Linked DNA regions of Homo sapiens. Each later gene encodes a partner of the first gene's protein in a complex. Each region holds a gene or a part of one and is shown in the gene's direction. Other genes may lie near its edges. The genes, in order: SURF1, SMIM20, CMC1 and COA1.

Region 1 (7,735 bases):
TTCAGAGGACACACGGTTTGATCAGGAGCGGGGGAAATATCTGAAGGCTTTCTCGAAACTTCACGGCATGTGCTTTTATTAACCTGGCTGTTTACAGGAGCTGAAGCTCTTGGGTTTGCGGTGATGACTCTTGAACTTCTTTTTCAACGAGCCCAACTGCTTCTGTGGGATAAACAAAATTCTGATTACTGAGCCTTTCTGATCCCATGGAGAAGGGGCCCTGGAGTGCAGGGCTCTCCCCACCCACACAGCCTCAGAGGTGTCGGTCAAATACCCACAGAGGCTTTCTCCACCCCCGTTTCCTTAACAGCTGCAGGATTAGACCCCGCTCAGCAGGGCCTCAGAGGAGTACAGTGCAATGCCACACACTCATTAGGACCTTGTCCTCTTTTGGCCTTGGTCCTGCTTATCTACCAAAGGCGGGGAAGTCTCCACTCCTGCCCTGATGGCAAAGGCAAAGGTGGTGGCTAGTAATCAGGTCCCTGTGCCCAGGGGTAAGGACAAACACGCCACAGCTCATAGTCTGAGGTAGGAGGGTGTCCTCACAAACCAGTGGTCTTGACCGTGGTCCACAGAGCCTGGCTTCCACAAGGGGCTGGCTGGGAAGCAATGGTAGGCACTCACGGCCTTCCGCCAGCCAGCGGCCTCGGCTTCTATGGTTCTTGTGTGTTGTTGGCTTGGGATTTCACTTGTGAAAAAGGTTCAGTTTTCTTTTTTTAAACAAATGGAAAACCATCACTAGGGGAAGCCACTGCCACACTAACAGAGGAGGTGACAGCTCACCTTCCCGCGCTTCTGGACCAGCCCTCGGTACACGGTCGTCTCTCTCCTGCCCTCATCAGTGGCCTTCTCTCTTGGGGGCTTTGCCTTCTCATCCTCTTTGTCTGTCAAAAAGTCATCAGTGCCATCCCCATCCTCCGTGCTTCCAAGGTCCTTTCTGGTGAATAGCTCAGCTGGGAGGAACACAGGGATTGGCTGACAGTTATTTTAGGCTGAGTTCGCTGCCACCTTTGCAGGGGAGGCAGCACCACAGTCTGCTCCCTGCTGACAGTAGAGGGTCAGGGAGAAGCAGGGCCTGTTCTGCTTACGTGGGTACAGGTCTGTCATGCTGTCATCACTTGCAGCTCCCCCCTCATCACTGGATGTGGGCTCCCAGAAGGCTTCCCGCGGGCGAGGCCCGTCACCGTCCATCTGGTCCTCCCTCCTCCTCCTCCGGTGCACCAGGCAGGCAGGCACGTACTCCACCCCTTGCTTCTGACATTCTTCATCTGGGAGATAAGCCAGCACGTGCTGGGTACCTCCACACCCCCCACGGTCCTCTGGGCCACAGCTAACTTATGAGGACTGCACTCGGCCAGGGCCCCACAGCCCCACCGCCCTGGACAAAAACCAGAGCAGCTGCTGGGTGCCTCAGCTCTGTTCCTACCAGGTGTGCAGGGAGGGTGGTGGGCCAGGGCTGCAGCCAGGAGGCAAGAAGATGGTAGAGGTCTACGGGGCCTTTACCACTCATCCCCGATCTAGCCAGGCCTAGGAAGCCACGGCTAGGAGGGCACTGACCAGGCCCAAGGCCAACTGTGCCCCAGTGAGCTTGGCATGGCCTCTCAAAGGCAACTCGGGCTGGCAGTGATGCCACCCTCTCCCCAGCAGCCTGAAGTCCTCCCTCAGCACATGGGAGACCCCGTCCCGGAGGGCGGGGCTCAGTGGAGGTTGGCTGCCTGGCCTTTGCTGCCCCTTAGTGGGTGAGAAGGGAGTTGGGACAAGGCTTCCATGGAAAGACCTCACTGGAGTCACCACCGTTGTCCCCTTGTATATTGGAGGGTCTGCTGGGGCTTGCCCTCCAGCCCAGCGCAGCTACCATCATCATCCCTCATGGGCTGCATGAGCCCTGCTGGGCCCTGGCCATTGATGTGGCGGCCCATCTCCAGGGCTGTTTCCCTCCTTGTCTCTGCCACCCACCCCCATGGCCATGCAGCAGCCTTGTCACCACCAGAACGTGAAGGCAGAGCCCCCTTACAGCCACGTTTGGACTTCCCTGGACCACTGCCTTGCAGTGACCTCGGCGCCCCAGTCCCATCTCAGCTCCACAGTCCACCATCATAACCATTCTTCATGGGAACCCCGTGGCCCCCTGCACTTAGAGCCTTCCTGCCCACCCCTGAGCAGCTAACACACTGGCTGGAAAAAGTCCAAGCCTCAGGCTGGCAGCCCTTGTGCCTGCAAGGCCTCTGCAAGGTGCCCGCCTTCTACTTGAGAAACCCTGGTCCTGCCTTCTCAATCCACACTCATGCTTCGGGAGGGCTGGACTGCCTCTCCGCACTCATCAGAAGCCCGTAGACGCATCTTCCCATCCGCAAACCAACCTGAATCTGTCCGCTCCAGCCTCTGTCCATTTCCCTCCTTAGCTGGACTCCAGAAAGGCTTTCTGGTGACCCAGCACCTGCCTAAGGCCGGACACTGCCCTCATGGGCTGCAGCCTACGCTCCACTCTAGCCAGGTGTCCCTGCCAAGCTTCAGGTGCCTCACCAAGGTTGCCAGGGGCCTCTGTGTTATCAAATCTATCATTTTTCTGTCCTCATCTTCCCTTCAGTACCACGGGAGGACTTCCAGCCTCTTCCTGGGGCTCAGGACCAGGCCTCTCTCCCTTCTCTAAACTCTCGCCGGGTGCTCACCCAGATCCACGGTGCAACCATCTCCTTCATCCAGCACGGGTGTCCCTGTTTCAAAAGCCCGATACTTCCCTAATACACACCTTTCCTAATACAGCTCAAGCTTAAAACCTTCAAAGGGACTCTGAATTCTCCCCCCAAAACCCACCGTCTTTTCCTGGATGACCGCAGTCAAGGAGTCCTCCCTTCTCAACCATGCACACTGTCCATGCAGCCCCCACCCAACCCTCTCCACACACCCACTGCAGTGCTCCTGGCCTGGTCTCTGGGTCATCCGGGCTGTGCACACTAGCCCAGCCAGTCCTTTGGAGCCTACCTCAGCCAACACATTTTTGCCTCAGACTTCCATGGACCCTGGCTTCTCCCTGGGGTGCTGTTCCCCCGACCCCACTGCCACCACATCCCTCCAGCCTCAGCCTCGAGCGAATCCCTCAGCGAGTCTCCCCAGCCCTCCTGTCTCCGCAAGCCCACCCCACATCCCTCGCCCAGTTTCTTTCACACCTCGCATTGCCACGCACACTCACTCACTCCCGAGCCTGCTTCTGGCTCTGTGCCTGCCTGCACTAAAAGCTGTGGGGTCAGGGGCCATCATCCCTCTCTTCACTGTGCCAAAAAACAGGCCTGATGCATCAACACGGATCGCTGAAGGACGACCTGCCTTCAAGCACGCTCCATCTGGGGCAAGGCGGGCATGCACTCAGATGGCGATGCACTGATGGGGGTCCACTGGGACTTACATTTACACAGAGCTCGCTGGTACCGCCGGCCCTGGGTGTGCCTCAGCACGTGTTCTGGGCACTTGTTGATGTGCCGCAGGGTGAGTTTGCAGAACAACTGGTGCCTACAGAGCAGAGAGACCAAATTTGTAGGGACAGTTCACAGCAAGGATTCAGACTGGTGGCTGTGTCTTGGACTCATCCCTGGACAGTCTACCATGCGGCTTGGACATCGGGCTTTTAAAGGCTCCCGGAGCAATTCCACTCTGAAGCTGGGTGGGGAACCGTCTGACCCAGGCCGACTGCAGCCTCTTAATGTTTACCGGAAAAGCACGCATGGCAGCCTCACTGACTGCTCCAGGATGAGTTCATGCAAGAGGATGGCTCCACCTGGAGCAAGGGCTCAATGAATGGAAACATCCTATCTCTGTTTTGACGATTATTACAAAGCCTAGCTCCCAGCTAAATCAAAGACCCCTTCTGGGGTTAAGGGAAGAACCCAACGCTGTTCACAACCTCAGGTGACAAATCACAAGCCTCTACTCATCTGGGAAGCAGCCACACCCCACAGGACAAACCTCAGGTGAGCAAACGAGCTCACCAAGAGGCCTCGCCGCTGGGACCGCAGGTGATTCCAGCACCCGGGCGCCCACCTGGGTCCCAGGGCTCCCAACTCTGAAAGAGTAGGGGCTGCAGCACTGGCGGAGTCCAGCGGAGGGGCTGTCCTAATTGCCCTGGGCCTCCCCGCGCCGCCGCGGACCACCTACGGGTTCTTGGTGCTGGGCACGATGTGCGGCTCGAACTCTGCATAGTCGAAGGCCGGGGAGGCGCGGACCAGCCGCTGGTACTTTTTGCCGCGGGTGTAGACCTGGAGCTCCGGCAGGCGGCAGGGCAGCTCGTGACCTGTCAGGATGCACCTCACCTGCGGACGCGTGGGCGGGCAGGACGTCAGGAGGGCCAGGGCTCCGCTCCCTGGTGCCCCCTCCTGCCGCGCCCCCTTCCCTCTCCTCCCCTGATCCCGCCGCGCCCTCTCCCCTGCCCTCCCCTCTCTCCTGCTCTCCCCTCTCCCCTCTCCCCTGCCCTCTCCTCTCCCCTGCCCTCCCCTCAGCCCCTCATCCCAACTGCGCCCTTCTCCGCCACTCCGTTCCCCTCCCGCGCTGCGAACCTTGCGGGCGTCCGTCTGGAGCCGCAGGCTCGGGTGCTCCCGCAGAAACGCCCGCACGTCGCCCGGCAACTCGCTCATGGCCGACGCGCCCGCGGAGCAGCCCGGCGGAAGCCGCTCGCAGAACCTGGAGCCGGGGGCGGGGCTCTGGGCGGGACTCAGCGGCGCCCCGGATGCAGATGCTTCCTGCGTCCCGGAAGCGCCCGCGGGGCCGGGTGCGATGGCGGCGGTGGCTGCGTTGCAGCTGGGGCTGCGGGCGGCGGGGCTGGGACGGGTGAGCGCCGGGTGCGGGGTGCGGGGTGCGGGGCGCGGGGAGGGGTCCCGGAGCTCAGCCCGCCCGTCCGTGTCCGCAGGCCCCGGCCAGCGCCGCCTGGAGGAGCGTCCTCAGGGTCTCCCCGCGCCCAGGTGAGGGCTGCAGGCCGGGCTGTGATCCAGGCGCCTGGGCAGAGCCACCTGCTGTCTGCCCTGCACTTTGAAGGGTTGTCGTGGGGATTGAAATGAACCAACTGCCGGCTGAGCGGAGGCTCCCTGGGAGTGACAAGTTCCGTATTAAAATGCTTTCAGTGGAATTGTGGTCGTGTGCCGGGCATGTAGCGAGCGCTTTGTCCTCACAACGCGAGAGGTAGCTCCTTGGTCGTTCCCCTGTTACAGAGAAGGCTCGAGAGTTACTTCCGAACGTCCCATCCAGCTAATGGGTGGCCAGCCCAGGCTGAAAGCCCAGGGCTCTGAAAGTAAAGCGTATCTAACCACCGCGGCTTACGTGTTCCTCTCAGTGTGCAGCACAGGGCTGTTTTGCCGTGTGTAGAGTGCTGTGCAAGCCTGCCCCAGGCCTGCCTTTTTATAAAAAAAAAAAAAAAAATAGTATCCGCAAGGCCCCTGGTGCTTTTCAGCGGATGGAACTCATCCTCTGAGAGCTTAAAGGCACTTTCTGTGTACATTCTTCCCTCTTTACATTTACGATGAGTTGTAAAAATGGAAAGCTGTTAAGAGAGCTCTGTGAGCCATTACTGAATTGATATATTTTTCTACATAACACAACAACCACTAGTGCCTGACTAAGCTACTTAGTAACTGTAGCTGCTTATTTTTTATTTTTTGAGACAGTTTCGCTCTTGTTGCCCAGGCTGGAGTGCAGTGGCGCAATCTCGGCTTACAGCAACCACCTCCTCCCAGGTTCAAGCGATTCTCCTGCCTCAGCCTCCCGAGTAGCTGGGATTACAGAAGCACCATCGTGCTCAGCTAATTTTTGCATTTTTTTGTAGAGATGGGGTTTCTGCATGTTGGTCAGGCTGGTCTCGAACTCCTGATCTCGTGATCCGCCCGCCTTGGCCTCCCAAAGTGCTGGGATTACAGGCGTGAGCCACCGTGCCCGGCCAACTGTAGCTGCTTATTAAATGCATTTTGAATGGATGAATGGTGCATCTTAGTGCAGTGGAATACATCTAGATTCTTGAGTAAAAAGGCATGAGTTACTCAGGGTCGTGGTTGGTGGTCAAACCGGCACTGAGCCCTAGATCCCACTTACTCACTTGGCAGACGTACTGTGTGTGCCTTGTTCTGGGCACCGGGTTAGGAGCTGGGCTGGATACAGGTGCTGCTAGTTGGCTCTAGGCAGCAGGTTTTGATTGGCAGTACTGGAGTCTGTCTTGGAACGGGCTGCTCCAGGTCTGTGTTCGAGGGCTTCTGGCTCCATGTCAGTGTTGTGAAACTCTCCAGGGGTGGCCTGGAGGCCAAGCAGATGTGGCAGTTCTGCAGCAGAAGCATCTGCCACAAAAGCGGAAGATGACTCCTTTCTTCAGTGGGTCCTGCTCCTCATCCCTGTGACTGCCTTTGGCTTGGGGACATGGCAGGTAAAGACCGGCATCTGGTGTGCGTAACTCTGGGCCCTTGACCTTGCTGCCATCTGCTTGGCCTTATGCTCTGTCACTGTAGGTCCAGCGTCGGAAGTGGAAGCTGAACCTGATTGCAGAGTTGGAGTCCAGAGTTCTGGCTGAGCCTGTCCCTCTGCCAGCCGAGTGAGTGCATGGCTGCCCCCCTAGGGCCTGTTTTACTTGAGTTCAACAGCAGAGCCCTGGCTTCTGCTGGCCAGCTTGCCCCTTTTGGTGGGACTTTTAGTCACTGCCTTGACCTCAGGTGGGAGCTCTCATTATCAGTCATCTGTTGGGCTTGCTGTTGACACCTGACTGCCCTTGTGAAGCTACCTGAGACCGCCTCCTGACATATGGAGGAAAGTCTTATTTTGAGTCCTGGGTGTCACCCTTTTTTCAGGTATAGTAAACTTATCCTCCACAGGGCCCAAGGCCCTGTGGCTGAGGACAGATAATGTAGGTCTCACCGTGAGGGTGGTCGTTTGAAAAAGTGCCCTGAATGATTTGTCTGCTCTCTCCCTAGAATATGCCCTACAGAGATAGGTATATTCAGCCACATTTTCCATTCAGGGTAGCAAACAGTATGCCAGATTTGGCTTGCAGATGGGGTTTTGGCCCACATATTTTTTAAAATTTCACATAAAATATTCATTGAGGAGTCCAGATTTTTAGCCTCTCTTGTAAAGTTGGACTCTGGCAGTGCAGATCCACATTCCCACATGGCATCAAAGTTCCCCTTTGAAGAGCACGCCCTTTGCCTTTCTCCTTCACTTGTCTGGCCCTGGTGGGCTGTGTAGTCTGCCACCCTCAGGGGATTCGTTTTCCAGCCAAACCTTGCTCGGCCACTGTTCTTATCTCCATGCAGCCCAATGGAACTGAAAAATCTGGAGTATAGGCCAGTGAAGGTCAGGGGGTGCTTTGACCATTCCAAGGAGCTGTATATGATGCCCCGGACCATGGTGGACCCTGTCCGGGAGGCCCGGGAGGGCGGCCTCATCTCCTCCTCAACTCAGAGTGGGGCCTATGTGGTCACTCCCTTCCACTGCACCGACCTGGGGTGAGTAGGACATGTGGGAGCTGGCTGTCCTGGCAGAGGCAGTCAGGGTATACTAATTTACATCACTATTTCCTTCACAATCCCCAACCTTGGTAGGACCCTGGGGAACCCAAGATACCCAGGAGATTCAATTCCTTGCATAGTTTAAGTCCCTAATTGTGACATTGACTTAATCTTCTCAGCCAGCTCATTTATGACTGGATAATTTCTGTATGTTGACCTCTGAAGGGAAAGGAGGGATTCGTGAAACAGGGGCCCTGCCTCTG
Region 2 (7,021 bases), on another chromosome or scaffold:
TCTGCATAGCCTACTAGATGAATGACCCTCATCTAAGTTACTTCACTTCTCTGAGCCCTGCCTGTTTCCTCATCTGTAGCAGTGTAGTTCACTGGATTGAATTTACAGGGTTTGGGGTGAATTAAATGGGGTAACAGGTGTGGAAACACCTACTATAGTCTTATATTAGATATTTTATTAAAATGTTTACAAAATAATGAGCCACAAGGGCAGGAATGTGAGACATGGAGATTTTAGCAGGTGGATAGGCCTGGAGCTGGCTGACCTAGCAGTAAACTGGGATGAGGTGTTCATGATCAGGTCATGGAAACCCACTGTGTGGTCGGATCTTCAGCTCATTCCAACACATTCAACTAGCATTTATTTAGCACTCTCTTTTTTAGAAGAAACCTGGATTCTAGCAATCGCTGGGTGCCTGGCACTGTGCTGGGTGTGGACTGCACCTAACCAAACAGCATGGTCAGTCACTTCCTTCCATCATGCTCTTCCTACCCTTGTCCTGTCCACCTCGCTCCACCCATTCCTGGGACTGAGCTGCTTCCATTGTGTCCCACCTACTACCCATTCTCTACCTAGCAGCCACAGTGGTCTTTTCTGGTGACTTTTGGTTGCTGGTTTCTATCTTATTTGCATTTATGGTCAGAGAATGTGGACTATATGATTTTGATTCTCTGACACTGGTCAAGACTTGCTTTGGGGCCTGGTACAGGTCAGTTTTTTTTTTTTGTTTTTTTTTTTTTTGAGACAGAGTCTCGCTCTTTCGCCCAGGCTGGAGTGCAGTGGCGTGATCTCTGCTCACTGCAAGCTCCGCCTCCCGGGTTCACGCCATTCTCCTGCCTCAGCCTCCCAAGTAGCTGGGATTACAGGTGCCCGCCACCACGCCCGGCTAATTTTTTGTATTATCAGTAGAGACGGGGTTTCACCGTGTTAGCCAGGATGGTCTCGACCTCCTGACCTCGTGATCCGCCTGCCTCGGCCTCCCAAAGTGCTGGGATTACAGGCGTGAGCCACCGCGCCTGGCCCAGGTCAGTTTTTGTAAATATTCCCTGTGTGCTTGGAATGGTGGCTGTTCTCTTGTTGGGTACAGAGTTCTGTATCTGTGTATGTTAATTACAGATCAAGCTTCTTAATTCTGTTTGTATTTGGATGTCCTGTGGCCATGTTATTAGGTGCATACAATCTAGAAAATTCTGGATAATTTTTTCTAATTATCATTATATAAGAATTATCTTTATCTCCACTGTTCTTCCCCATCTCTATTTTATCTGATTTTATTGTGCTACCAGATTCCTTTTTTTTTTGAGATGGAGTTTCGCTGTTGATGCCTAGGCTGGAGGCTGGAGTGCAATGGTGTGATCTTAGCTCACTGCAACCTCCGCTTCCCAGGTTCTAGTAATTCTCCTGCCTCAGCCTCCCAAGTAGCTGGGATTACAGGTGCCCACCACCACGCCTGGCTATTTTTTTGTATTTTTTACTAGAGACGGGGTTTCACCATGTTGGCCAGGCTGGTCTCGAACTCTTTGACCTCAGGTGATCTACCTGCCTCAGCCTCCCAAAGTGCTGGGATTACAGGCATGAGCCACTGCTCCCAGCCCAGATTTCTTTTAATATTTTCCTAGCTTATCTGTTTCTCTCCTTATACACGCAGACTTTGTCCTTATGTGAATATCTTTTTTTTTTTTTTTTTTTTTTTTTTGAGACGGAGTCTCGCTCTGTCGCCCAGGCCGGACTGCGGACTGCAGTGGCGCAATCTCGGCTCACTGCAAGCTCCGCTTCCCGGGTTCACGCCATTCTCCTGCCTCAGCCTCCCGAGTAGCTGGGACTACAGGCGCCCGCCACCGCGCCCGGCTAATTTTTTGTATTTTTAGTAGAGACGGGGTTTCACCTTGTTAGCCAGGATGGTCTCGATCTCCTGACCTCATGATCCACCCGCCTCGGCCTCCCAAAGTGCTGGGATTACAGGCGTGAGCCACCGCGCCTGGCCTGTGAATATCTTAAAACCAACATAAACTAGATATTTTAATCCAACCTGATAAGCTCTTTTAACTATTGGATTGGATTAATTTTCATTTATTCTATTTACTGATATATTTGCATTTATTTTTCTCACCTCATTTTGTGTCTTCTTTTTTTTTTCTTGAGACAGTCTTGCTCTGTCACCAGATTGTTAGTGCAGTGGCAAGATCTCGGCTCACTGCAACCTCTGCCTCCTGGATTCAAGCAGTTCTCCTGCCTCAGCCTCTCAAGTAGCTGGGATTACAGGCACATGCCACCACGCCCGGCTAATTTTTTTTTTTTCCTGTATTTTAGTAGAGATGGGCTTTCACCATGTTGCCCAGGCTGGTCTCAAACTCCTGAGCTCAGGCAATCCGGCTGTCTCAGCCTCTCAAAGTGTTAGGATTACAGGCATGAGCCACTGCACCCGGCCTTCTGTTCTATTTCTATGCTTCCTTTTTTTCTTCTTTTCTGCCTCAAGCCTTCTTTATTCTTCTCTTCCCGCTACTAGTTTGAAAGTTTTAAATTCTATTTTTGTTCTTTTATAAAGTTTAGAGTTAGTCAGTGTCTTTACCCTTGAACAATACAAGGTCCTTATAATGCCTTAACCTTTGTCCCATGCACCTGACATAATATATTTGTCCTGCCTGGTGCCTGTGACTCAGCAAATCAGTTAACACCATCACTATTGTATATGGTCACTGACTGTTTATCTTCACCCGCGTTCTTTACTCACCGACGCTGCTTACATTTCACTCCTTTCTAGCTTCAGTTTTCTCCCTTCTGACATACATCTGTTACTACTTCTTTGGTAAGAATTTGTAACTGGGAACCTCTGTTTTTGTCTATTGGAAAATGTATAGAACTGCAGGTCTTCTGCCATGGTTTTTGAAAAGTTTGTCACGCCATCCAAATTTAATCATCTCACTTGCTTAATTACAGTGCTCCAGTAACCCTTTGGTGTCTTGGAAGTCCAGCCAGTGGAGGGTTATTGAAGTATAGTCATGTGCTGTATCATATTTTGGCCCGCGATAGACCATGTATGACAGTGGTCCCATAAGATTATCATGGTGCTGAAAAATTTCTGTCGCCTAGTGATGTCCTGATGATCCTGACCCTGTGTGGGCCTAGGCTAATATATATGTTGTATCTTAGTTTCTCACACAAAAGTTTAAAAAGGAAAAAATAATAATAATTTTAAAATAGAAAGATGTCTATAGAATGAAGATATATAAAGAGAAAATATTTTTGTACAGCTGTAGATGTTTGTGTTTTAAGCTAAATGTTACTATAAGAGTCAAAAAGTTTTAAAAATTTAAAAGTTTATAAAGTAAAAAAGCTAGCTGAGGTTCATTTATTACTGAAGAAAGAAATTTTAAACAATAAATGTAGTGTAGCCTAAGTGTGCAGTGTTTATAGAGTCTGTAGTAGTGTACAGTAATGTCTTAGGCCTTCACATTCACTCACCACTCACTCACCCAGAGCAACTTCCACTCCTGCAGGATTCATTCAAGGTAAATATCCTATTTGGGTACACCATTTGGAAAATCTTTTATACAGTGTTTTTACTGTACCTTTTCAAGTTTAGCTATGTTTAGACACACAAATCTTTACCATGTGTTACAGTTGCCTGCAGTATTCAGTACAGTACCAGGCTGTACAGGTTTGTAGCCTAGGAACAATAGGCTATATCACATAGCCTGGGTGTGTAGTAGGCTACACTGTCTAGGTTTGTGCAAGTACACTCTATGATGGTTGCACAACAATGAAATCACCTAAGGACGCATTTCTCAGAATGTACTCCCACAGATGAGTGACACAGGACTGTATGTTAGTAAGAGCAGTGATCATATTCACTCTTTACAAGCATCACTCTGATTGATTGTATGTTAACTAGAAGGTGGAAAAGTCAAATCTGGGGACAGGAAGGCCAGGTACGGGAAGGCTGTGTTTCCTGTGACCTCAGGGAGACCAGAGTGGTGGCTATGGGAGTGGAGATAAGTGACTGCATTTGGGAGCCATATTTAAGAAGCAAACTGGTGGGCATGGTGGCTCAAACCTGTAATCCCAGCACTTTGGGAAGCTGACGCAGGAGGATCGCTGGAGTCCAGGAGTTCAAACCAGCCTGAGCAACATGGCGCGACCCTGTCTCATTTAAAAAAAAGAAAAGAAGTAAACTCTACAGGGGTCTGTGGCTGATTAGCCACGGGGCAAAGAAGGAGAATGGCACCCAGTGTTCTGGCTCCAGCAGCTGAGGAGATGGAGATGCTGGTCATTAGCTAGAAAACACAAGAAGGAATTGGTTTTAGGGGTGAAAAGACAAGTTAGTTTGCTTTTGGGCATTTGGGTAGCTTTTGAGGCTGAGGTAGCTGATGTGCTCTTTGAGATTTCCCATAGACAATGGAATATACCGATCTGGGGCTGAGACGCCGGATGTGAGCTGCAGCTGGAGATGGGGCATCATCAGCACGTGGCTGGGAATCAGGTCACTGCAGTAGGTAAGGGTTCCCAGGCAGCATTCAGAGATTGTAAGGGGCAAGCTGGCCCGGGGCAGTGTGCTGGGGAACACCAGTGTCAGAAGGGCTGAAGCATAGGGGGTCAGAGGAAGAGAAAGGCCCTCTAAGGAGACTGAGGAGGAGTGGCTAGACAGGTTTTAAACCAGGAGAGGCTGCAGTCACAAGCCCCATAAAGACAGCTCTTCATGAAAAGGGAGTGTGGTCAGCAGGGTTAGGCTGCTTAGAGACAGTAAAAGAGATAAGTGAAAATATGAATTATATTTAACAGAAATAAGTTAGAAGTGATTGGTTATATTGTTAAACATGCTTTCAGTGGTTTGGAAGTAGGCAGAAGGCAGGTTGCAGTGGATTGAAGTGTATTAAGTTGACTATTAATAGTGTATTAAGTTGACTATTTATAGATGTTTAGCTGTATGGAGAGGAGAATGGCAAAGTTTCCAGCAGGTCACAGGGTCTGGGAAGAGTTTTCTTTTAGTTTTGGCTGGAAGAGATGGAGGGCCAAGAAAGTCTTAGACAGAGAAAGCTGCTGGAGAGAGAAGACAGTCCGTAGAGTGGGAGGTGACATGAGATCCTGAGCTCAAGTAGAGGAAAGAGCCTTGGACCAAAGGCAAGGCACCTCTTCCACCAGCTCAGGAGGAAGGATGGTGTGGATGCTGCCATATCTAGGTTTGATGTTGGCAAGTTGTGGGCACTTCCAGGTGATGGCGTCTATTCTCTTTGTGACACAGGAAGTCAGGTCATTTATGAGTAAGAGGCACCAACTCTAGGCCATCCTCTCCTTCCTTGGAGCACTGTCTTCCCTGGGCCTCTCCACCGTGGAAGGTCCTCCTGGGTTTGCTCTTTTGCTCCTGCCTTTCAGCCACTCCTGTTAGCCTTTCTTGTTAGGCCTTCTCTCCTGACCGTCCTTCATACATTTCATTCCCCAGGATCCTGAGACTGTGGGGCAGAAGCCCATCATTCTTGGATGGACAGGGCAGAAGCCTACTCCCTGAGAACTGGGTTACTGGTAAAAGCAAGACTTAGGGCTGGCAACTGGCAAGGCAGTCCATGTAGAGCCAAGTGTCAGATCAGTCCGGGCCCTTCACCTGTGCCAGCATGGATATGGGGACAGGTACGTTCCAGGGTCTCTGCTGGAACAAGCATACAGGCAGCAGAAAAGAAGGGGAAGCCTGCTTAGGTAAAACAAAGCCAAGGAGATCTTCCATGGTTGCAGAGCAGGCAGCCACTATCACCAGACTGCCTTATTGGATTTCATTTTGGCGTTCAGCATGATCTTCAGTTCTTTCGTTAACTTAGCAAGGCTTTCCTAAGTGTTATGTGGAGTACAAGGCAGTTCTGTACATGATACCTCAAGTACTGAAATGAGCGCTGGACAGATGATGGCATCAGTGGGTCAGTGACCCAAAACCAGAAGTCTGGGTACAGTTCTGCTGTACTTCTGGAGGGAGTCCCAGACACTTTTTAGCTTTCACCCTGTTGGCATAGCATGTTTGGTCTGAAGAGGCCACAGTTAGGGAAGAGTACAGATGGCTAATCTGTCTTTGTTTCCTAGAACTAGACAGTGACCCTGAATATGGCCTTTTACAAATAACATGCATTTGAGGCCAGCCTGTGAAATTAGACAGAATAAGATCATTTTCTGTGATCCTTTTCATTTGAAATTTTAATTGGATGTTCAGAAGCATAAAATCATAGGGTTTGACCAGAAGGGGCTTGAGCTCATTTCCGTCCCCTCATTTAGTGACTTGTCCAAGGTTACTCAGCACATTAGTTGCTGGGTGGACACTAGGCCCTAACTCCTTGACCTTGCCTGTACTTAATGCCCTGCCTCATGATGCCTTCAGACAGTGAAGAATGTTCAACAGCCAGCCAAGTGAAAGGCCACAGGGGAGAGCTGTGAGACCTCAGTTCTGCTGCTTCTCAGTCCTGTTGATTTCCGCTGCACCTTGCTGCCCCTGCCCAAAAGGAGGCTATGCCTAGGCAGCACACGGTACTGGAAATCACCTGATGCAGAAAGAATTCTTACCTTGTCAGGGCATTTTCCTTGTGACATGCCAGGTGCTTAGAATATGCTTTTCAGTCCTTTCACCACATAATCGAATGAAATGCGCAGGCAGACTGGGTCTTGTTTTCTAACTGGCATTACACAGTTCCCTGGATTCAACCAGGCTCTGGTGAGGAAACAGACCTGTTGACACTGTTGGGAGGAGTGCAGTGCTTCAAGTGGCTACTTGGTCCCCTTCAGCCAACTGGGTCACACTTGCTCCTGTGGTCATATGGCTTCCCCTCCGTCCCTGGTTCTTTCTTGTCACCACGTCCATTTGGTCCCCTTCAGCCAACTGGGTTGCACTTGCTGCTGCGGTCATATGGCTTCCCCTTGGCCCCTGGTTCACACTCACCACCAGTGAACCTCCAGTTCTGGAATACCCCAGAGGCAGATGGTGTATGTATCTAGGTAACAGCAGCAACAAAAGCAACTGAAAAGCTTTTGAAAAAAATTTTATATTTGC
Region 3 (7,021 bases), on another chromosome or scaffold:
TGGAAGTATTTCTGGATTTTTTTTTTTTTTTTTTTTTTTGAGATGGAATCTCGCACTGTCACCCAGGCTGGAGTTCAGTGGTGAGATCTCAGCTCACTGCAAGCTCTGCCTCCCGGGTTCATGCCATTCTCCTGCCTCAGCCTCCGGAGTAGCTGGGACTACAGGCACCCGCCACCAAGTCCGGGTCATTTTTTATATTTTTTTTTAGTAGAGACAGGGTTTCACTGTGTTAGCCAGGATGGTCTCGATTTCCTGACCTCGTGATCCGCCCGCCTCGGCCTCCCAAAGTGCTGGGATTACAGGCGTGAGCCACTGTGCCTGGCCTTGTGGATTCTTTTGTTCTCTTTTGTTACATTACTCTTTTTGGCTACCCAAATTATGCCAGCACTACGTCGTCTTGACTTCTGTAGTTTTGTAGTATGACTTGTAATCGGGTAGTTGCTGCATAGCATCTAAATTTGTTCTTCTGTTTTAGTGTTGTTTTGGCTATTCTATGTCCTTTGTGCTTCCTTGTATGTTTTTTCACTTTTTTATTATAACTTTATTTTTTAATAATATAATAATAATAATAGGAAACTACAAAATCATGCAGTTTCCATGTACCTGCCTTCTTCCCTTTCCCTAATGATGCTATCTTACATAACCATGATATGTATATTCTCAGTGGGTGTGATAACTGCCTTCAAAAGGATAACAATTGACATTGGTGGAGACAGAAATATTACTCTCTTAATGTATAAAACAATGTTACACCCGCAGTGCATAAACATATATGCTATATCTGTGATATTAACATTTCATAGGGGTACATTAGGAAAAAATGTCAAAAAAGGGTCCTTTTAGGGCAAAAATTAAAAAAGGTTGGGACAGGCTCCTATAATTAAATGTGGACAAGGAAACTGGGAATTGGCAATGGTATAATATTGTTGATTCAGGTACTAATCTTAGTCGAATTTCACCACTTTTTACATGCATTTTTTTTGTTGTTCTGTAATTATATGACATCTGCATCATGAGGATTTTCTCCTGTGATTGTTTCTAGAAGTTTTTTTCTTTAACTTTTTATTTTGAAATATAGACTCACATAAAATTGTGAAAAATGCTATATAGTCTTGAGTGTCCATCTCATAGCTTTCCCCAGTGGTGACATCTTATATATCTGTAGTACAATATCAAAACCAGGAAACTGAAGTTGATACAATACTGTTAACTAGATTATAGATCTTTTCAGTTTTCACCAGTTTTTACGTGTACTCATATGTGTGTGTGTATAATTCTGTGTAATTTTATACCATGTTTCTTTTTTTATAGGGAAAGCGTTCAGAGTTTTAGTATTAAGTATGATGTAAGCTAGAAGATTTTTTGTAGATGCCCTTCATTAAAGAAGTTCTCTTCTGTTCCACGTATACTGATTTTGTTTTTTATGAATGCATGTAGAATTTTGTCCAATTTTTTTTGGCATCGATATGATTATATGGTTTTCCTTTTTTGGACTGTTAATATATCTCATGGATTACATGGTTTGAATTTTGAATGGTGAACCACCCTTGCCTCCCTGGAATAAGTCCAACATTTTTGTTATGTGTCTTTCTTTTTATGTATTGCTGAGTTTGATTTGTTAATATTTTGTTGAGGATTTTTGCATCTGTGTTCATGAGGCATACTGGTGTGTAGATTTGGTGTGTGTGTGTATGTGTTTTGTAAATACCGTTCTTGCTTTTAGTATCAAGGTATCTGTGCCTTCTTGAGTGAGCTTTGGTTGGTTTGTAGTTTTTTTAAAGGAATTTATTCATTTCATTCTAGTTGTCAAGTTCATTGGCCTAAATTTGTTCATAATATTCCCTTATTATTTAAAAATATTTATCATTTCTGATGTTTGAAATTTGTGACCTTAGTCTGGCTAGTGGTTTATAAATTTTATTGATCTTATCCTCTCGAACCAGCTTTAATTTCATTGTTTTTTTTTTCTTTTATTTGTGTGGTATTCTTTATTTCATTGATTTATATTTTGATATTTATCTTTTCCTCTTTTGCTTGCTTTGTGTTTATTTTACCCTTTTTCTGGTTTCTCAAGGTAGAAACTTAAGTTAATACAAGACCTTTTTTCTTTTTCTAGATAGGTTTTTAGTGCTACAAATTTCCTGCCAAGTACTGTTTTAGCTGCATCACATAAATTTTGATATATTGTGTTTTTATTTTCATTCATATCAAAATACTTTCGCATTTCCTTTTTGGCATTTTCTTAGATCCATGGGTTATTTAAAAGTGCGTTATTTAGCTTACAAATATTTGGCGATTATCCGGAGATCTGTTATTGGTTGCTAATTTAATTACATTGGTGTCAGGGAACATAGTTTGTAGGGCTTGAAATTCCTTCAGATTTATTGAGATTTGTTTTATAGCCAGATTGTGGTTTATCTTAGTAGATGTTCTGCTGTTATTAGGTAGAGTATTCTATAAATGTTAGTTAGGTCAAGTTAGTTGATAATGTTGTTCAAGTACTTCACAGTTTTAACGAACTTAAATATATGTTTTTGTAATATGACATATATTTTACATTTGTATATCATGCGTTCAGTTTTTTTTTTTCTATCAGAGCATATTCTCTGTTACATCTTGTGAGAGATTTTATTTTACAAAGAAGGTTACAAAATTATCTCCCATTCTTCATGCTTTTCTGTAGTGTGGTTTTGTTACCAAGAATAGAATCTGATTTCCTTCCACCTGAGTGTGGGCTATCCTTAATGACTTGAAATCAGTATAGTGTAGCATGAACGAATGGTGTTGCATGGCTCCAGGTAGAGAGGCCATTGGTAGATGTTCTGGTTTACAGTCCTAACTGAGCACTTCTTTTGGCCATTCCAGGCCAGATGTCAGATACATATATGAAAAAAGAAGTAATTTTGGAAGTAAATCCTCCAGCCCCAGCTTTTGTAGCTGGTGGGACTCTAGAGCAGGTGTTCAATTTGCCATTTTAGTCCAATTTTGGAAGTTGTGTTTAAAATGCACACCAGAGCCACCGGAACTTTGAGTCTTCCCAGATCAGGCCCCTCTGACCCATAGTTTATTGTTTATTGTTTTACATCACTAAATTTGATGAGTAGTTGTTGCACATAGTAGTCATTCCCCAGTGTACGAAGGGGATTGGTTTCAGGAGCCCCATATTTACCAAAACCTGTGCATTCTCAAGTCCCACCATGGGCCCCTCAGAACCCATGTGTATGAAAAGTTGGCCTGAAAAGTTGGTATACCATATAGGTTCGCATCTCCAAAATATTGTATTTTCAATCTGCATTTGGTTGGATAATATCTGAGTATTAAGTGGACCCCCACAGTTCAAACCCGTGTCGTTCAAGGATCAACTGTAATAAGGAGATTACTTCTTTTTCTGTAGGGTTTGAAGGTGGTAAGCATTTTAGTTCCTATATATCTGAATGTCCTTAACCTCACTCATAATTGGTAGTTTAGAGACTCTAGAATTCTTTGTAATTCTTTATAATTCTCTCTCAGAACTTTGAAGTTATTTCTCCATTGTCTTGTTGCATCATGTCTTGCCAGTGAGCCATGATGTAAATCTGATTCTCATTCCTTTATGTAGGCAGTGTTTATTCCCTTTTGAAGCTTTTAGGATTTTGGGGTTTCAGACATTTCATCAGAGTGCATTTAGGTAATCCATGGTCCATTGCTGTCTGAGGACTCAGGTCTTTGTATTTGCCTCAGTATATTTATTATACTTAATAATAATCTAAAATCTTCTTTCCTATATTCTTTTAATGGGAAACTTTCTGGTCTTTTGGGGATAAATACCTATATATACTTTTTTCACCCGTGGCCTGAAGGCAGCAGAGGAGGTGACCATTTGGCTCCTACTGAGTCACTTTAATTAATAACTGTTTAGTTTCCTCCAGGGAAGTTTTCTTGCTTTCCATATTTGCTGCTTCAGAGCATGGAGCAGCACCCACTTTTGGCATGCGTGTTTTTCCTGGATACTCTATAGTAATATGATTACCTCATTTAATCTGATCTAATCTGCCTTTTTTTCTTTCAGAGATTCCTCATCTTTTTTGGTTCACTGAAGGCACTTATCCTTTGTTTATTTTTCAGGACTCTCTTAGCATTTAAGGAGCAGGTGGGACTCTAGAGCAGGTGTTCAATTTGCCATTTTAGTCCAGTTGTGGAAGTTGTGTTTAAAATGCAGAGAAATCACACACGCTTTGTTTTCATATGGACTTGTAGTTCCACCTTTTCTTCTGTTAGTTCTTTTTTAGGCTACTCTTACTACTAGGTAGAAAAACTACTTGTGTGTCTCTTAATCTTGTATCTCTTCATCTATTCTTGGATCTCAGTATCGGTGAAAATCCTCTTTTGTGGATTATATTAATAAGGGAATGATTTAGATGCCAACTTTGACAAGATTGCATGGAATATGTTATAAAGTAAAGATGTTGTAGTATAGTTTGCAGAAATTTTAAGAAACATGTTGCTTGTATTCCTCACATTTTTGTTGTTGTATATAAAAAAACATTGCAAATAGGATGAGTTTTAATGACTAAAATAATCACAATTTCATAAGGTTGTAAGTTTTGAGTATATTTGCATAGGCTTTTATTTTAAGTAAACCAGAGTCTTATTTTTCCTTTAATCTGGTGATTTGCTTGAGACTTTATTAAAGAAAGATCTTTTTTTTTTCAGACCAGCATCTCAGACATGTCGAAAAAGATGTTTTGATCCCTAAAATAATGAGAGAAAAGGCCAAAGAGAGGTGTTCTGAACAAGTTCAAGGTAACATTCAAATATTCATGTAAAGATCAAATTTATTTTTAATAATATGATCTGAATTTAATCCTTAGCCCCAGAATCAAGTAGTCAATGAATTAATATGTATGAATTGCTTCTCACCCTTTCGCTGAAATACCAGTATTTCAGCTTTCAGAACTTCCAGTGATGTTCAATTCATTTACAGTTTAAAAATATTTCCCTAAATTACTAGTAAAAAACATTTTTTGTTTTTTTACCCTCAGAGGTACAGTTATATACATGGAAAAACTTGGTATGAGTAATTTGGAGAAACAAGTTACTCTTACGATTTTTATAGGGGAGGAAGAAACATCAAATCTAACATATACCTGTTTCCCATCTGTCACCATATTCGCATACATATATATATTCTAAGGTGATTTTCTTTGGTGTCATTGTCTATTACTGAATTGTTAATAGAATCCTGATAGGACTTACAGTGAGTCTGGGGTTTTTGTTTTGTTTTATGTTTCTAAGTGGAAGATATTTATGTAAATACATACACTAGACAGCTACAAGTGTATGTTTTCTTTGGAAAATGTTTTAACATGAAATACTCCTATAGATCTAGAGACATCAGTGATTAATATGTAATATTCTAGTGAAACATGTAAAGAAAGCAGTGAAAGGTGAATAGTGAGGCCATAATACATTTGTAAATGATGAGTTATTAGAAAAGCACATGGCAATATTACTTTAGAAATATCTTTAAAAAATTCTGTCTCTTGGAAGGGCCATCAAAAAGAAGTAATAAACTTTTATGGGCATAGGCTATTTTCCTGGCTTTACTTCTTCACTTTCCCTGTGGTCATCTTTATTGAGGGACCACAATAATTTTTAGTGAGGATGATGGGCTGCACTTCCACTGCAAGCTTCACTACAGGGGAGCAGGGCTGTGTCAACTCTAATTTCAGGACTGGGTCAATAACATTTGGATACTAGGAACGCTTTTGTTCCCTTCCCTGTCCTCTGCCCTTAGAGAGGACCTTTGCAATTGATGAATGGAGGCAATAAAATAAAGAGTAGTTCTTTGGAATCAACAATGTGTGATGGTAATTTTTGTTTCTTCAATAACTTATTATGACCTATTCCATTTTAAAACTCATATAAATAACCATCCAATGGTTTTACTCTTGATTCTTGTGAGTTAGTTTAATCAGAGTACCTTTCTTTAACACCTACCCCCAGATGTCTTGAGACGTCAACCTATTGACACCTGCAGGTAGTGCATGTATGGCATTGGTAGGTGTCATGTTTATGGTCACAAGAGGTACATCCTGCACATTCCTCATACAACTTAAAAAATATATATCCTGATTCAGGTGAGGGGAGATAAAACTTAAAAACCCTATAATAAAGTTGTAGGGCTTTTTACTGCTAGGAAAATTTACTTATTACTGATATATCAGTCTAAAGTTACACATATAAGTTGTATGTGTGCTGTCATGTAGCATATTGTCTTTATACCTAGAATGAAAGAAAGCTAGCTAACTCAATTACAGATTTAATTTTTACTGACATAATTCCAAGGAAAATGCAGAATGATTGTATGACTTTGAGTTTTATTTTTGGTTTTTGAAATGAAAGCGTAGAGTATAACTTTAAAATATTTATTTGTGTTACAAAACTAGTGTTTTATAATGGTACAGAAAATAAAGTGTTTAATTTTCACTTCATCAAAAGTTAAGTTGTTTAGGATGTTGACGTAGTTAAGTTTTTGCTGTTTTAATATACTTACGGTTTCTGAAGACTGAAAGCATCTTAAAATCTGTGACTCATTTGGATTATTTAAATGTATTCATCTATATTAGAATGTAATAATATAATTTGAATATCTTATAGATAATTATGTATTGATTTTTTAGGCCATGTGATTCAAAACAATATTTTAGAATCTAAAATTGATAAGAGAATAAGAAGTCTTTAGTATTTTCTAACCATATAAATTAGGAAATCATATACATTAGAATTATTCAAGCAGCAGAAGAAAACTTCATTTAAACTCAACAGTTATACATAATTTAGAATCGGGACATTTCCATTGTAGTTTATTTACTGTTTATAGCTTTTGCTTTATTAAATAATTATAGGATTTTATATAAAAGCATTATATATGCCAATTGTATGGTTCTTAGATAAAAGATACAGGAATTTTAATAAGTGATCTGACTTTCTGCTAAATGCCTAAAACATGATTATGTAGGAAAGCTTTTCCGTTAGATTT
Region 4 (7,982 bases), on another chromosome or scaffold:
CTTGAGCCCAGAAGTTTGTGACCAGCCTAGGAAACATAGCAAGACTTCATCTCAAAAATAAATAAACTGAAAAAAGAACTAGCTCTTTTACTTAATTGATTTCCAAAATTATCTTTATTATTTCATTTTCTATTATTTTTAATTTTCCCCCCAATTTCTTAAAGTGGAAGCTAAAATAATTTAACTTATACTTTTTCTTTTCTTATATTTTTATTCCTTATATTAAGAATGCAATGCTATAATTTTCCTCTCTAAAGCACTACTTTAACTGCATTCAATGCCTTTTGATATATATTTTTATTTTTATTCACTTCAAAATACGCCTGTTTCCTTTACCATTACTTCTTTGACCCATGAGTCAAAATGTATACTTAATTTCAAAAGAAGTGTGTTACTTAATTTCAAAATATTTGTGTTTTCCAGATATCTGTTACTAATTTATAATTATGGTAAGACAAAAAACTTTATACAATTTCAATGTATTTAAGTTTATCAATGTTTATGAACTGGCATAAAAATATTCTACACACTTAAAAGGTGCATTTAGCTATTTATGGAGTGTTCTATAAATATTAAACAGGTCAAGTTGGTTAATAGTGTTGCTCCAGTTTTTTATGCACTTACTGATTTTTTGGTCTAGTTTTTCTATTAATTGCTGAGAGATGAATGTTAAAATCTCCACTACAATTTTCAATTTTTCTTTTCTTTTTTCTTCTTTTTTTTAGATGGAGTCTCACTCTGTCACCCAGGCTGGAGTGCAGTGCTGCAATCTCGGCTCACTGCAACCTCTACCTCCTGGGTTCAAGCAATTCTCCTGCCTCAGCCTCCTGAGTAGCTGGGATTACAGGTGCACGCCATCATGCCAGGCCGATTTTTGTATTTTTAGAAGAGACAGGGTTTCACCCTGTTGGTCAGGCTGGTCTTGAACTCCTGACCTCGCGATCCGTCCACCTTGGCCTCTCAAAGTGCTGGGACTACAGGTGTGAACCACCGCACCCAGCCTACAATTTCCAATTTTTTGAATTGTCCTGTCAGTCTTTGCTTCACATTTATTGAAGCTCTGCTATTAGTTCCAAACAATTTTTTTTATTTTGAGACGGAGTCTCGCTCTGTTGCCCAGGCTGGAGTGCAGTGGCACGATCTCGGCTCACTGCAACCTCTGCCTCCCAGGTTCAAGCGATTCTACTGCCTCAGCCTCCTGAGTAGATGGGATTACAGATGCGCACCACGACGCCTGGCCAATTTTTGTATTTTTAGTAGAGATGGGGTTTCACTATGTTGGTCACACTGGTCTCGAACTCCTGACCTCGTGATCCGCCTGCCTTAGCCTCCCACAGTGCTGGGATTACAGGCGTGAGCCACTGCGCCTGGCCAGATTCATACAAATTTAAGACTGTTATATCTTCTTGATGATCTAACCCAATTATTATAAAATGTCCTTTATTTTTTGCAATCAGCATATTTGAACAGCTACAATTTCCTATAACAAAATTATAGGAGGTGCACATTATTTCCTATAACAAACATGTAGAGCATGTGCTTGGAGTACATGTAAAAGCAAACACAAAAGCAAAAAACAAAAAACATGTAGAGCAAGCATTAACTTTACATTAAACAGGACATATTGTAAGAGATAAATAACTTTTTCAGGGTTAAAAATCAGGATATCACAGGTGAATTTCTTGTAAACAAACTAGGCAGGACTGAATTTCATGCTGGTAGTAAGATAAGCAAGAAAGGACATTCATACCAACCTAGCTAATGTTAATTTTCTCAGTGTCTTTGAGGTAAATACTGTCTAACTTTTACTTATTTTTATGACAGGACATTATGGCACGCTCAATGCTTTGTTTTCTCAAAGCTCTTATGCCAAAATTTTCTTCTTTCTCTCAATAGGTGGATAGTTCCTTAACATGATAAAAGATGTCTACTTCAGTCCTTAAAACCAGCATCATGCTTAATGGGAAAATTCTAAAGATATCTCATTAAAGATAGGAATAAGACATAAAAGTCTACTGTCATTATTATTATTAAATATTTTACTGGAGATACTAGCCAAAACAATTAGATATGAGAAAGTAGAGGTATAAAACTTGGAAAGAAGTAGGTAAAACTATTTCAATGATAAGATTGCAATCTTAGAAATTCTACCAGAATGAACTCCAAACAATAAAGCAACTTAGTAAGGCAGTGGATCACAATATTAATATGCAGGAAATGATACTTTCATGTATACATACAACTACGATGTGTAGTAACCTCATTCAGATTTGATAGTTATAGGATCCTGCTGCTCTTGAGTGAATCTCAAAGCAGCCATTTAACCACTTAACAGTAGCCCTCATACAGCATTATAGTCAGCCCCTCCTCTCTTCACCTCCTACCCCTTCCCTGGCTCCTTAGTTTAAAAGTATCAAAACAGACCCTTTCTTTAAATATATAGAAAAAGAGAGGTAGAATGTGTATTTTGATGGGTAATTTTGGCTATAAGAAACAGAATCCCTGACTTAAGGTGAGTTAATAATAACTAAAATTTATTAAGCACTTAAAATACTTACAATATGACCAGCACTATTTTAACCCATTTAATCTTTATGGCATCTCTATCAGAAAACAGTAAGGATCCCAGCACTCTGGGAGGCCAAGGTGGGTGGATCACTGAGGTCAGGAGTTCAAGAGAAGCCTGGCCAACATGGTGAAACCCCTTCTCTACTAAAAATACAAAAATTAGCCAGGCGTGGCAGTGCATGCCTGTAGTTACAGCTACTTGGGAGGCTGAAGCAGGAGAATTGCTTGAACCCGGGAGGCAGAGGTTGCAGTGAGCTGAGATCATGCCACTGCATTCCTGCCTGGGCGACAGAGTGAGACTCAGTCTCAGAAAAACAGAAAACAAAAACAATAAGGAAACTTATTAGACATTCCTACAAGGCATTCAGATACAGGGTGAGCTCCAGGTTTGGAATGATGTCACCAAGGACATTGTTTTATAACTTGTTCAGTTGTCCTCAGCATTGGTCCATCAGTTTTATTCCTTGTGATGGGCAAGATGGCTACTAATGACAGTGTGGGATAGATGTTTCGACGTCAAGAGGACAGTATATCAGAAACTTTCTCCTGAGCATGAAATAGAGGTCCTTTCCTTCAGTCAGATTGCGCCAACCTGGGTCATATACTCGTTCCTTGATTAGCAACTATTTCCAAAAAAATTCTGTGTGAAGACTGGTTTAATCAGTATCATTTTGATTCTGGGAACAGGGCAGCTATCTGAATAAAATAAGGATTTTGGTACAAAGGAGTTAGAGGAAAATGAATATTGGATAGGTAACATTATTCACTATAGAGTTTTGTTTTTAATGTAAAATTTAGACGACAAAAAAATTCTGTGTGATGACTGGTTTAATCAGTATCATTTTGATTCTGGGAACAGGGCAGCTATCTGAATAAAATAAGGATTTTGGTACAAAGGAGTTAGAGGAAAATGAATATTGGATAGGTAACATTATTCACTATAGAGTTTTGTTTTTAATGTAAAATTTAGACGAAAACTTTAGCAGATTTAAGTCCAGTGATAGAAATGTTAAGTTCTGAGTTTTCAAGCAAATGGTCAGAAAAGCCTATTTAATGTTTTATTACTTACAAAGTAAACATATTTCTCTTTCTGGTACAGAACGGGAGCTAATTGATCTCGGGTTCATTTTCATGAACGTTGTATGAAATGCACATATACCAAACCTCATAAGCTTTTTATTAGTTGATTTATTCTTTGAAATATTAAGCTTGGTGTAAGGTATTATAACCTCAATCTCTTTGAAAATGTAATAAGTCAATAATCAATGTTGCATCAATGAATATTACTCAGTGGATGCCTATTTTATTTCTTCTTTTTCTCTAAGAACCATTTAAATAGTCCTTATGGCCGAGCACTTCACAATCTGATTAGTTTCTATTAATTCTTTGGAAAAGAAACATTCTGGGAAGTCAGAATTCAGCGGTAGGTTGCTTTGATAATGTGCTCATTTAGCTAGTGGATTCCAGAGTGATAGAATGTATGTTTGGCAACCTAATTGTTGTGGAGGAAGAAAAGAACTTCTGTTAGAAGTTTTTAAAAAAGTTTAAAAATTGTTTTTACCTCATCAAAAGTTTGATGTCTTGTGAGTTTTATAGCATGCATAATATATTAATGCCATACATGACACATGTAAATATATATATATTTTTTCTGATAGGGATGTGTGAGCAAGAGTTTAAAGAAGAATGCCCCAGTCTAAAGTTAATTAGTCTTGGAGTGATGGCTTCGCAGAGGAAAGATACTGGATTTCAAGCTTGACATTAAGGTGATAATAGTGGTGACTATGGAATAATCAATATAAAAATAATAACAGCTAACAGTTACTGAGCGCCTACAAACTGCCAGACACTACTCTAAGTGCTTCACATCCTCATAACAAATTTATGAGGTAAATGCTATTATTATCCACCAGCCTTCTGAAATTTTCTTACCCCGTTACTCCCTGGTGTTAACTGGGTACTTAATTTGTCGAATAAAATAAAATTTAGTGCTGCCAAATTTGTCAGCTGAACGGGGCGGCAGGAATTTCAGTGCTAGAGTGGGGGGCCAGACGGCCCGGGGCTTCGTGTCCTTGGAGGCCAGCGGAAGCGCCGCATACCTGTGAGGAGCAACGTGAGCCGGTGGCTTATATTTCCTGGGCTAGTGCTACTGGACTGAATGCATTTGCAATAACCGGACGCAGAAAAAAAAAAAAAAAGCGGGGACCAGGGGAGGCGAAACCCTTCCCGGCGCGAGTCCGAGCGTCTGAGAAGCAGAAGCCACACGTCCCGGCGACCTAAGTTCTGGATCAGCCGGCCGGAGGACCCGTGTTAGCATTTACAATCCGAGGTGAGCTGAAGCCTCCGGTTGTCCCGGTTCGACGCTCTAGCCCTGCGAGCAGCCGACGCCGGAAGTCTCTACTGCTCCCCGCTGGCGCGCAGGACCGCGGGCATTTACCCGTGCTTTCCCAAGCCTGGAAGAACTCGTCATGCTCTTTGTAGCGTGGTGCTTCTGTTGCTCACAGGTTAGTCTCCCGCGGTATAAGAGTCTCCGTCTTCCCCCCAGCAAGAAGCGTTTGTTCCTGCAATTCGGGGGGCCGCCTTTGCGCGCGGGGTGCGCTGCTTCTTGGAGAGTTCCCTCACGGGTCACATCGCGGAGGTTCGCGCCGGCGCCGGGTCGCGGCCTCCCTGCGCAGCTTCTTTGGCACCTGGTAACCTTCAGTGGCTCCGTCCGCTCGGAGTTAGGAGGCTGTGTCGAGCTAACCTTGACCTTGTCCTGCAGTTTTTGCTGACCATCCCCAACAGCACACTGTAAAGAGTTAGGGTCCTCTCGAAGAGTTGGGACTGGGCACTTTTGTTGGTAGTGCTAAATTTCAACACCCTGAGGAGTACGCTGCCCAAATTATTGTAGGAAAGAATTACCTGGTTTAGTGGTTATAATACTTTTTGTCCCCACCACACTTGAATAACAGAAAAACCCTCCCAACAGGGGCTGACTGCAAAAGTGATTTTCTGTGTAGGGGACATTGGATGTATTTATGTATATATCAGTGCCTATCAGTCTGTATGTGTGTTTGGGGGTGGATGCTGTGTAATTTAAAAAAATCTATGGAGATTCTGATAATTTGATAACCTGTTTCTCCGGTCTTCCCCTGATTCCTCCCCATTCTCCCCGGAGGGCTATTGCTTTATTTCTGAGGTGGCTCACGTTTGGATAGAAGTAGCAACTCTCCGCTTACACCTGCACGTTTAAAACGCATATCAGATTGTGTTATTTCTGTCCTCAGAATCTTCCTGGCCTTCCCGTTGCTTTCAGGATAATACACATTTCTTAGCCTAACTTCAAGGGCCTACAGGGTCTTGATTCTGCTGAGTTTTTCAGTCTTTGCTACTTTCATGGAAAACACACCTGCAGGTACACTCATATTATGCTCCCACCATGCCAGTCTACGGTAATTTAATAACTTTAGATATGGCAAAGTTTTATATGGTTTACTCAAGTTTTAATTTTTGTTCTAGCATTTAGCCAAAATCGATTGAATTCATAATATTGCTAGGCACTGTTTTAAAAACGGGATAAAATGAAAACAAAACAAAACACAAAACAAAAGTCTTCAGTCCTTTAAAAAAATAAAACAGCTTCCTGACACATAGTTCACCTACCGTAGAGTTCACCATTTAAAACGTAGCGGTGCCTCACGCCTGTAATCCCAGCACTTTGGGAGGCCGAGGCGGGTGGATCACGAGGTCAGGAGATCAAGACCGTCCTGGCTAACACGGTGAAACCCCGTCTCCACTAAAAATACAAAAAATTAGCCGGGCGTGGTGGCGGGAGCCTGTAGTCCCAGCTACTTGGGAGGCTGAGGCAGGAGGATGGTGTGAACCCGGGAGGTGGAGCTTGCAGTGAGCCGAGATTGCGCCACTGCACTCCAGCCTGGGCGAGAGAGCTAGACTCCATCTCAAAAAAAAAAAAAAAGAAAGAAAACCTAAAAGTAATTAGTACATTAGTACATTCACAAAGTTGTACAACCATCATCATAAAATATGCTGTAATCTTCTTCACCTTCATTAGTTGGTTTAATTTTCTATTTCAGACAGACTCCAATAAGTTATTCTTGTATTCTTTTGTTCATGTTTAATATGCTGCATTCAGTTTGTGAGAGCCATATTGGAACAATTGAACATTTTCATCACTCCAAAAGGAAACCCTGTACTTATTCAGCAGGCTCACCTGACTTCCCCATCCCCACTCCCCATTCTAAGCCCTAAGCAACTATGAATTGACTGACTGTATATTTGACTATTCTGGATTATTCATGTGAGTGAAATCATACAGCATGTGGTCTTTTTCAACTGGCTTCTTTTACTTAACATTCATGTTCATCTGTGTTGTATTTAATAGCATGTGTCAGTACTTTTTTTTATTGCTGGTTAATCTTTTATGGGTATTACCACGATTTATTTTCCATTAGTTAGTGGACGTTTGGATTGTTTCCACCTTTTGGCCATTATGTGTAATGCTGCTGTGAACATTCACCTACAAGTTTTTGTGTGGACATCATGTTTTCATTTCTCTTGCGTATGTGCCTAGGAGTGAAATGGCTGGGTCATATGGTAGCTCTGTTTAACATTTTAAGAAATGGTCAGACTGTTTTCCAAAGCATCAGTGTGCATCTTTTTAACATTCGCACCAGTAGTGTATTAGGGTTTTGATTTCTCACTCCTTGCCAACACTTGTCATTATCTGTCTTTCTGATTCTAGCCATTCCAGTGGGTGTGAAGTGTGTGTCATTGTGTTTTCATTCTTTTTCGTTGACATGTAATAATTGTACATATTTAGGGACTACAGAGTGATATTTTGATAAATGTATACAATGTGTAGTGATCAAATCAGGTAATTAGTATGTCCACCACCTGAAACGTTCATCTTTTCTTTGTGTTGCGACCATTAAAAATCTCCTAACTTTTTGAAAATATTATGGTTTCAAATCGTATTTCCCTGATGGCTAATGATGTTGAGCATCTTTTCAAGTGCTTATTGCCCATTTATTTATCTTCTTTGGAGAAATGTGTACTCAGATCCTCTGCCCATTTTTAAATTAGGTTCTTTTTTGTAATTGAGTTGCAAGAGTTCTTTATATATTCTAGATACAAGTCATTTATCAGATATGTGATAGTCTTTTAGATTATGCTACCGTTCTTTTAAATGAAAAGCACATGAGATTAATTTTTTGTAGCCCTGGAGACCTCCTTATGGGTATGTGGCTGTGGTTTAGAGAGTGATGGTTTTCCAACAACTACGTGGGAGGCCAGGCCCAGGAAAAATGCTGTGAAAGAACCCGTGAGGAGCATTTTAAGACTTGAAAAATGAAGCAAGGAAAAACTTTATAATTTGCCATTCCGTATGGAGTTTTGTCTTTATTGATTTTTAGGAG

The links.
Region 2: SURF1 (region 1) and SMIM20 share a complex: the UniProt entries of both Homo sapiens proteins name them as parts of the MITRAC (mitochondrial translation regulation assembly intermediate of cytochrome c oxidase complex) complex.
Region 3: SURF1 (region 1) and CMC1 share a complex: the UniProt entries of both Homo sapiens proteins name them as parts of the MITRAC (mitochondrial translation regulation assembly intermediate of cytochrome c oxidase complex) complex.
Region 4: SURF1 (region 1) and COA1 share a complex: the UniProt entries of both Homo sapiens proteins name them as parts of the MITRAC (mitochondrial translation regulation assembly intermediate of cytochrome c oxidase complex) complex.

Annotation. Positions count from the first base shown.
Region 1 is NC_000009.12:133,353,483-133,361,217, reverse strand, and holds the start of SURF1 (surfeit locus protein 1), read left to right. Parts: upstream 1-4,730; 5' UTR 4,731-4,764; coding exon 4,765-4,818; intron 4,819-4,897; coding exon 4,898-4,949; intron 4,950-6,260; coding exon 6,261-6,394; intron 6,395-6,476; coding exon 6,477-6,559; intron 6,560-7,277; coding exon 7,278-7,469; intron 7,470-7,735. Other genes in the region: SURF2 (surfeit locus protein 2), read right to left, coding at 79-162, 784-953, 1,089-1,268, 3,404-3,507, 4,150-4,304, 4,548-4,625. UniProt on the Homo sapiens protein: Component of the MITRAC (mitochondrial translation regulation assembly intermediate of cytochrome c oxidase complex) complex, that regulates cytochrome c oxidase assembly.
Region 2 is NC_000004.12:25,917,220-25,924,240, forward strand, and holds part of SMIM20 (small integral membrane protein 20), read left to right. Parts: intron 1-7,021.
Region 3 is NC_000003.12:28,258,599-28,265,619, forward strand, and holds part of CMC1 (COX assembly mitochondrial protein homolog), read left to right. Parts: intron 1-4,692; coding exon 4,693-4,782; intron 4,783-7,021. UniProt on the Homo sapiens protein: Component of the MITRAC (mitochondrial translation regulation assembly intermediate of cytochrome c oxidase complex) complex, that regulates cytochrome c oxidase assembly.
Region 4 is NC_000007.14:43,726,519-43,734,500, reverse strand, and holds the start of COA1 (cytochrome c oxidase assembly factor 1 homolog), read left to right. Parts: upstream 1-4,977; 5' UTR 4,978-5,072; exon of another isoform or gene 5,073-5,258; intron 5,259-7,982. UniProt on the Homo sapiens protein: Component of the MITRAC (mitochondrial translation regulation assembly intermediate of cytochrome c oxidase complex) complex, that regulates cytochrome c oxidase assembly.